Homo sapiens: one gene and its partner. The protein of the gene in region 1 purifies or fractionates together with the protein of each later gene. This does not show direct contact. Each region holds a gene or a part of one and is shown on either strand. Other genes may lie near its edges. The genes, in order: AKNAD1 and SFSWAP.

Region 1 (3,819 bases):
TTGGAAGTGATTTTTCTCTCTCTCTCTTTTTTTTAATTTCCATTTCCATTTTCACACTTCAGCTCCCCTCTCTTTCAACTGAATGCCTGGGGAGTTTGAGCAGAACCCCCTACATCCAAACCTGAGCCAACAGCCCACCTGGCCATGACTGGGATGCTCTCTAGGTCTGAGAGAAACCTACACCCCCGTGGTATTGGGAAGTGTCGGGGTTCCTTGTTCTGCTTGCAGGAGAACATCCTCATTGTGTCCAGTTCTCAGTGCCCCGTGGTTAGCAGGAGCAGATGGATATCAGGCTCTTCTCCCTCTGGTATGGGGGTTCGAGGTCAGGTATCTGATTTTTTCCAGTTCTGTCAATTCAGATTGGAGAATTGGACACTGCAGGTTTCATATCCGTCATATAGTTGAGATGTCTAGAAAGACCATAGTCCATTTTGACCAGCTCTCCAGCACTAGCGTGTTTCTGAGCTTTATGTGTTGGGAACAAAGGAAAGACCCCACAAGGTGAATCACTCTGGAATTTAAACTGTTCAATTAGCCAGTGGTGAGTAGAAAACCATCACTATCTTGACACACAGTTTGGAACTTAATGCATCCTCTGTTATTCTCTAGAGTGTGGCTACCATGAGTTTTGTGTTAGTGACAGCACCAGCAACAGAGCTGGTGACAAGACCAGCCATGGTCCCTACCCTTGTGAAACTTATAGTCTAGTTTTAGGAGAAATGTTTCAGCATTTCACATACCAGTATCAAACACAATGGTGATAACAGGTAACATGTATTGTTACATGCTTACCACCTGCCTGATACTATGGTAGATATTTAACATTTCATCCTCATAACAACCCCCTGAGGCAGGTTCACTTACTATCCCCATTTTCCTGCCAAAGAATTGCAGGCTTATAAGTGATGAGACAATTACTTGGGTTGCCCAGCAAGTAAGTGTCAGAGTGGAATTCAACCTTGGCATCATGGCTCCGGCTCTTGACTGCAAACCTGGGCTCCCTCTATGATGACAGAACATGTTGGGTCATTCTGAACGGTGGTGTCATTGATCAATATCGACAGTAACGTTTTCTTACCCTTTAATTGTGCAGATGGAGCCCATAGTACATATCCACCAAGAACTTCTCACAGGTACTAATGTTTTAAAACTTCTTTGAGATATATATATATGTTTTGTTTTTGTCTTTTTGAGACAGGGTCTCACTCTGTCACCCAGGCTGGAGTGCAGCAGCACAATCTTGGTTCATTGCAGCCTTGACCTCTGGGGCTCAAATGATCCTCCCACCTCATCCTCCCGAGTAGCTGGGATTACAGGTGCATGCCACCACACCTAGATAATTTTTTTTTTTTGTAGATGTGGGGTCTCACTTTGTTGCTGAGGATGGTCTTGAACTCCTGGCTTCAAGTGATCCCCCCGCTTTGGCCTCCCAAAGTGCTGGGATTACAGGTGTGAGCCACTGTGCCTGGCCTAGATAAATATTTTGAAAAAAATTAAATTTTAAAAATAGTAAGTGGTGGTGACTGCAACAGCTTTCTGTTTTCAGTACTTAATAAAACTGTGATAAGTTGAGATGAATGGTAGCCCAAATGTGTTCTTTCTTGTATAGGAATAGAATCTGAGGCAAGTCTCTCTAAGTTGTCACCAACCTCTCAGAAAGGCACTTCCTCAAGTTCTTCTTACATATTTCAAAAGATATCCCAAGGGAAACAGATGTGTCAGAAGTTGAAAGAACAGACTGATCAACTGAAGACTAAAGTAATACTTTTAAAGCTTATTATAAACAATATAAGTAACCAAATTCACACATGAGAAACCATGCCATTAATGAGAGATTGTAATTTTTTCACTGCAGGTACAAGAATTTTCCAAAAGAATAAAACAGGACTCTCCTTACCATTTGCAAGACAAGAAGCTGGTAATGAATTTTATCCCGTTTTTAAAATCTTGATTAGAGAATATGGCTTGGATAAAGATAAATAACTTTATAGTGCCATGTTTTCTCTACAGTGGTGGGAGTGGAAATGTTTTGCTAAAGATTAAACCATCTTTGTTTATGGGGGCTAAAAGAGCTTAGAATTCTGTTTCTCTATCTATTTAGCCCTCTTTCCTTCTCAGGGGATCTATTACTTATGGCTATTACTCCTTGCCAGGTTACTCATAATTAATCTGACACCACGGGAGGTTCAAGAGAAGAACCCATAATCAGTTATAAAGAGTGGGCCTGTCCGCAGTTGATGGGTACTGGTGAATTCAGGTTATAAAAATTGCCATTACCTGGAAATTAAATATGACTTTGAATACTCATAAAATCAACCTTGAAGCAATGTTTTTCAGGTCAAAATCTTTTCCTTTCATATCCTTGCTAGTTGCTGCATTTAATCAAACCATTAATTTATGTCATCACCACAGCAGTCATGTTGTCAGTGCCAGGATCATGGGAAGGGGGTGGAGCAATGGGGTGAAGGGTAAGGCTGGGAGAACCAGAAGTATGCTGACCTGACATTGAAGATGTAGTTGAGGCCATTGGCTCATCAACAAGGGATAAGGTCAGAAGTTCTGATGTAGGCACAAGCAAGGTTTAGGGAGGGCTGTGCTTCAGAAACCTAGCAGCATGGACAAAAACCAGGGGACCCAAATGCTAAAAGACACAGTTGATTATTCTCTCCTTTATCCTGTTAATTAAATCATTCATTCAACAAACATTTATCAGGCACTTTCTATGTCCCAGACCCTGTACCAGGCACTAGGAATTCAAGATGAATAAACAATTCCTTTTCCAAGTGGTTTATAGTCTCTTAGGAACAGTGGACTGGTAAACAGGCAGCTAAAATGCAGCTGGAGAAATGTTACAGAGAATGCTAATGGCAGCCTAGAAGAGGCTCACCTTTGCCAGTGAGGGGACATTTGGAAGGCTTCCTGGAAGTCACTTCTGAGCTGGGTGTTGCAGAAGGAATAGGGATGAGCTTGGCAGGAGACCAAGGGGTATTCTAGAAAAAGAAAACAGCAGGTGCAATGGCACAGGGGTGAGGAAGTGCTGCCAGTGTGAGGAGCTGTGGGCACTGTGATTTACCATACAGCACTTGGGAGCACGTGGTGACATGGGGGTGGGGGAGGAGACAGGGGAGGTGGACAGGGGTACTTCATGAAGGCCTTTAAGCCATGCCTGAGGCTGAGTAATTGGGCAGCATTGAAGGTTTTTTTTTTTGTTTTTTTTTTTTTGAGACACGGTCTCATTCTGTCACTCATGCTAGAGTGCAGTGGTGTGATCTCAGCTCACTGCAACTTCCACTCCCCAAGTTCAAGTGATTCTCCTGCCTCAGCCTCCCAAGTAGCTGGAGTTACAGGTGTGCACCACCGTGCCTGGCTAATTTTTGTATTTTTAGTAGAGACGGGGTTTCACCATGTTGGCTGGGCTGGTCTTGAACTCCTGACTTCAGGGTGATCCACCTGCCTCGGTCTCCCAAAGTGCTGGGATTACAGGCATGAGCCGCTGCACCTGGCTGCATTGAAGGTTTTCAAGCTGACAAATGGGAAGCACCATGGGGGCAAGGCTGAAGGCACAGAGATTGGTTCGGAAGCCAGAATCCAGGTAACAAGTCAGGAGGGCCTGAACGAAGGCTGGCAATGAGGCTGGAGATGGGGACAAATCTGGGGGTTTAGGGAAATGGTGGCAGATGGAAAGGGCTGAAGAGAGGAAGGGAAGAGGCTTGGATGAGCTCCAGATTTCTGGCTTGGGTAACCAAGGTCAGGAATAAAAGTAGAGGATCCCGTTTAGAATGGGTGTGGAAGGCAAGCAGGAGGCAAGACGTCAAGTTG
Region 2 (3,819 bases), on another chromosome or scaffold:
TATAAAATCCTAAGAACAGCAACAAACCTAACAAGATATATGTGGTCCCAGCTTACTGAGGGTTCAACTCGATGATGGTGCACATGCAATTTGCATTCAGTAGAACATCAGTAAAATGCTTGAGATACTAAAAACTTTATTATAAAATAGGCTTCGTGTTAGATGATGTCATCCAGCCGTCAGCTACTGTAGGTGCCCTGAGCACATTTAAGGCAGGTGAGGCTGTGCCATGGTGTTCGGTGGGTTATAGGTGGATTCTGTGCATTTTCCACTTCACGGTGTTGTCAGTGTATGGTGGGGTTGTCGGGAAGTAGCCTCGCTATAAGCCCAGGAGAATCCCGGCATGTCGTGGCAGCCTGAGGACAGCAGGAGCCCCTTGGCACACTGTGCCCTCCCCCGTTCATGACTAGTAATGGCACAGTTATTGTAAAGCTGATGTGGCTTTTGCCAGCCCAGACTTCAGTTTGTAGACTACAGCCCAGCTTGTAGATTTTATTTCTGTTGTCACCCTGTACTAGTCCAGAAATTCTTAAAATTTAGTGTTCACGAGAATTGCTGTGTACAACATACAAGGGGCTGTATACAAAATCCCTGTGTCCTATAGTTGGTAGTCAGTTTAAAGGGCTTCAGTCCAGTTAAAGGGTTCTGTGAGCTGTATGGTGCCACCATTGTGTGCGGCACGTGTCAAGCAGCTTCATGGTCACTGCAGGATATTTTAGCACTGAGGCATTTTAGAAGCAGTCCAGGCCGTGCCACCAGCTGGCATGAACTCACTCATTAAACACTTACTGAGGGCCTGCTCATGCCAGGAGCTGTGTGAGCGGCTAAGGTTTTGTGGTCACTATTTGGAGATATGGAGTCCTTGGGAACATAGCTGCACACCAGTCCTAGTGGCGCAGGAGTTGCCATAGGGCGTTGTTTACAGGGTCCCCACGCGAGCCCAGAGCAAAGGCCTCCTGAGTCTGCCAAGGAGGCAGAGGCTTCCCGAAAGAGGTGGCACTGGAGATAAGCTGAATAGGGGCCTCATGGCAGGCAGAGACCCTGTGAGGCCGTGCAAAGGACAGAGACCTGGGGAACAGAAGCCAGGGCAAGGGGTGGGCTGGGCAAGCGGCAGAAGCCCTTCGGGAGGCTGGCCCTGGGCTGCTCCAGATGACTTGTGCCCGTCCTGCCTCCCACCAGGGCCACAGTGTCTGGGGAAGGATGGATCTGACGTCCTCCCTTAGATCTTCACATCCCTGACACCCTATGAAGTGAGAATCTGGGAGAAGCAACCCAGGAACGGTGTAGCGGAATTCATGAACCACTGTGGTGTTGGTTCCCGGGCTGCCTCCGAGCATGGCAGTGCCATAGGACACGTCCCACATTCTCTGTCGGCAGACAGAGAAGTGTTTTCATCTCATCAAGCAACACATACTTTATTTCTCTTGGAGTCCTTTTGAGAGACAGGATGATTTTCAAATTTGATTAAAACCTTGGAGAGAATCACAGGTGTGTGTGGGGAAGAGGTGACAGCAGCAGTGGCTAGCAGCAGACCGCCTCACAGAGGCTGCGCGTGTCTCGGCTTCACAGCTCTCCTCTGTGAGAATCTCCTGGGTCTGGGTCAAGGGTGTGCCCAGAGCATTGTCAGCCTGAGTGGTTTTTAGCGTGGAGCCTCTGAAGCAAGTTGTGGACCTAGGCTAGGATGTCCCTGGAGTGTTTTCAGATTTGGGCATTTGTTTCATTTTTACACCTACAGGCAGCCTTTTTTTCTTTTTGTGAGCTCAGCTCAGGGGCTCACTCCATCACCCAAGCTGGAGCACAATGGTGCCATCAACACCTCACTGCAGCCCCAAACTCCTGGGCTCAAGCCATCCTCCTGCCACAGCCTCCCAAGTAGCTGGGACTGTAGATGTGTACCATGCCCAGCTAGTTTATTTTATTTTATTTTTTGGAGATGGGGTCTGATGGTATTGCCCAGGCCTGAAGCATCCTCCCACCTCAGCCTACCAAAGTGCTGGGATTATAGGTGTGACCCATGGCACCCAGCCTAAATTTTTCAAATTAGCTGACATTTTTGACATTTGTAGTGGATGAGTCTCTGAGCAGTCTGCCATTTTGCCGGCACTGCTATTTTTTTTAACACTTCGTTTTTATTTAACAAGATGGAAGGCTCAGGAAGGTCATATAGACTAACAGTCTGCGTGTTCTTTAAAGGAATGGCGCTCAGCTTTGAAAACAGTTTCTTCATCTCTGTTGTGTTCCAGTGTGATTGCACTTTACACAGTTACATAAAGAATGCAGGTATCAGGTTGGAGCTGCATAATATGTACTACTAGTTGAAATAATTATAAACCGTTTTGTTTTGTTTGTTTTTGTGAATTCAGATCCCGTCCTTTGTGGCCCCAGTTTAAAACATGTTTGGACACTTTTTAGGGGTGAGACTGACTGTCCAGAGCAGGACATGGGGTTTCCGTCCTTCCTGCTGAGGTGGGAGGCTGGAGACCTGACAGTAGCCAGTCGGTAGTGGGGTCAGTTCCGCCTGGCCCTCCCCAGAGCTAAGCACACACTGGGCTGCACTCTCTCCCCTGGAGTGCTGGCTTCGCCCTGGCTGAGAGGAAGCATCCATACATAGTAGCCTGATGGCTCCAGCAGGGAGTGGGTGGAAGCAGCAGCTCCCCCCTTCCAGGGATGACGTTGTCTCTTACAGAAGCACATGCTTATATTCGGATTCCTGATTTTGATAGGAAGCCTATGTTGGACCATCAGGTCAGTTCGTTGGTCCAGCACATACTCTGCTCAATGCAGAGGCTGCAGAGACAGTGAAGACAGGACCTGCCGCTGCAGGAGCCTCAGAGACGGTGCCTGCCCTGCTGTCAGCCTCCCATTGACATCCAAGGGTCTCATCCCCTGCTCCCGGCCTTTTCTCAGAAATGTTGCTCAGATATATCTGTGTTGACGATAATGTGGAGCACATCGAACCCACTTATCTTATTTTGAAAATTTGGAGTATTACTGTTTCTGTGTCATGGTGGTTGGTGTGTAACATGGAGCTAGAGAACAACGGTTTAGGAGTTCATCATGTATAATTAATTTAAATAAGTCATTAGCAGCTGGGGAATATGCCTACAGCACATAGGAATTATGCTGCCTCGCCAATCTAAGATGGAAAGGTCAAGATAGTCTAAGTTGTACTTCTGAAATTTTTCTCTGCATAGCATACATTACTGGAAACCATAGTTAAGCTTTTACTGTTTTTCAATGTTATTGTTTTAAGGTGAATTGATTGAAAGTGAAGATAAAAGTTCTTAATTCGAAAAATATTTTTGCCATCTCCTAATAAAGAGGAAATTAAATCTCTGTGTAGTCAGAACTACTTGCTTATCTACAACAGGACTGGAAATTAAATTTCGTAATTAATCATTGAATCTTCTGTGATTCGTGGTTCTGAACATTTAACCCCAAAAAGGATAAATGTACAGGATTTTTAATTGTTAAGACAGCGTGCCTCTACCCTACAGATACCTGCTTGTGTGCACAGCATAGGTGGCAAGACGGCATACATCACTGTCTGTGATGGAAAGGTCCAGACACAGCCTCAGTGCCCCTGGGAACTTTTATTTACTGAATAAATTCCTGCACAGCCTGTGTTGCTGGGGCCGGGGGCTGACGCCAGGGTTGCCAGGAGCAGCTGCCTTACTGAGGGGATGGTTTCCGGATTAACGTGTGAATGGAGGGAGCAGCGTGCCTGGGGAATGAAAGCAGGTGTCAGCGCGGGGAGCTAGCCAAAGGCATTTCCTCACATGTGCATTTAGGAGCATAGGTGGCCTTCGTGGGCCGTGT

Evidence for each region.
Region 2: the proteins of AKNAD1 (region 1) and SFSWAP purify together in Homo sapiens (affinity purification with mass spectrometry; one large-scale study listed by BioGRID and IntAct). This does not show direct contact.

What each region holds. Positions count from the first base shown.
Region 1 is NC_000001.11:108,846,851-108,850,669, reverse strand, and holds part of AKNAD1 (protein AKNAD1), read left to right. Parts: intron 1-1,093; coding exon 1,094-1,133; intron 1,134-1,609; coding exon 1,610-1,758; intron 1,759-1,855; coding exon 1,856-1,918; intron 1,919-3,819.
Region 2 is NC_000012.12:131,748,947-131,752,765, forward strand, and holds part of SFSWAP (splicing factor, suppressor of white-apricot homolog), read left to right. Parts: intron 1-3,819.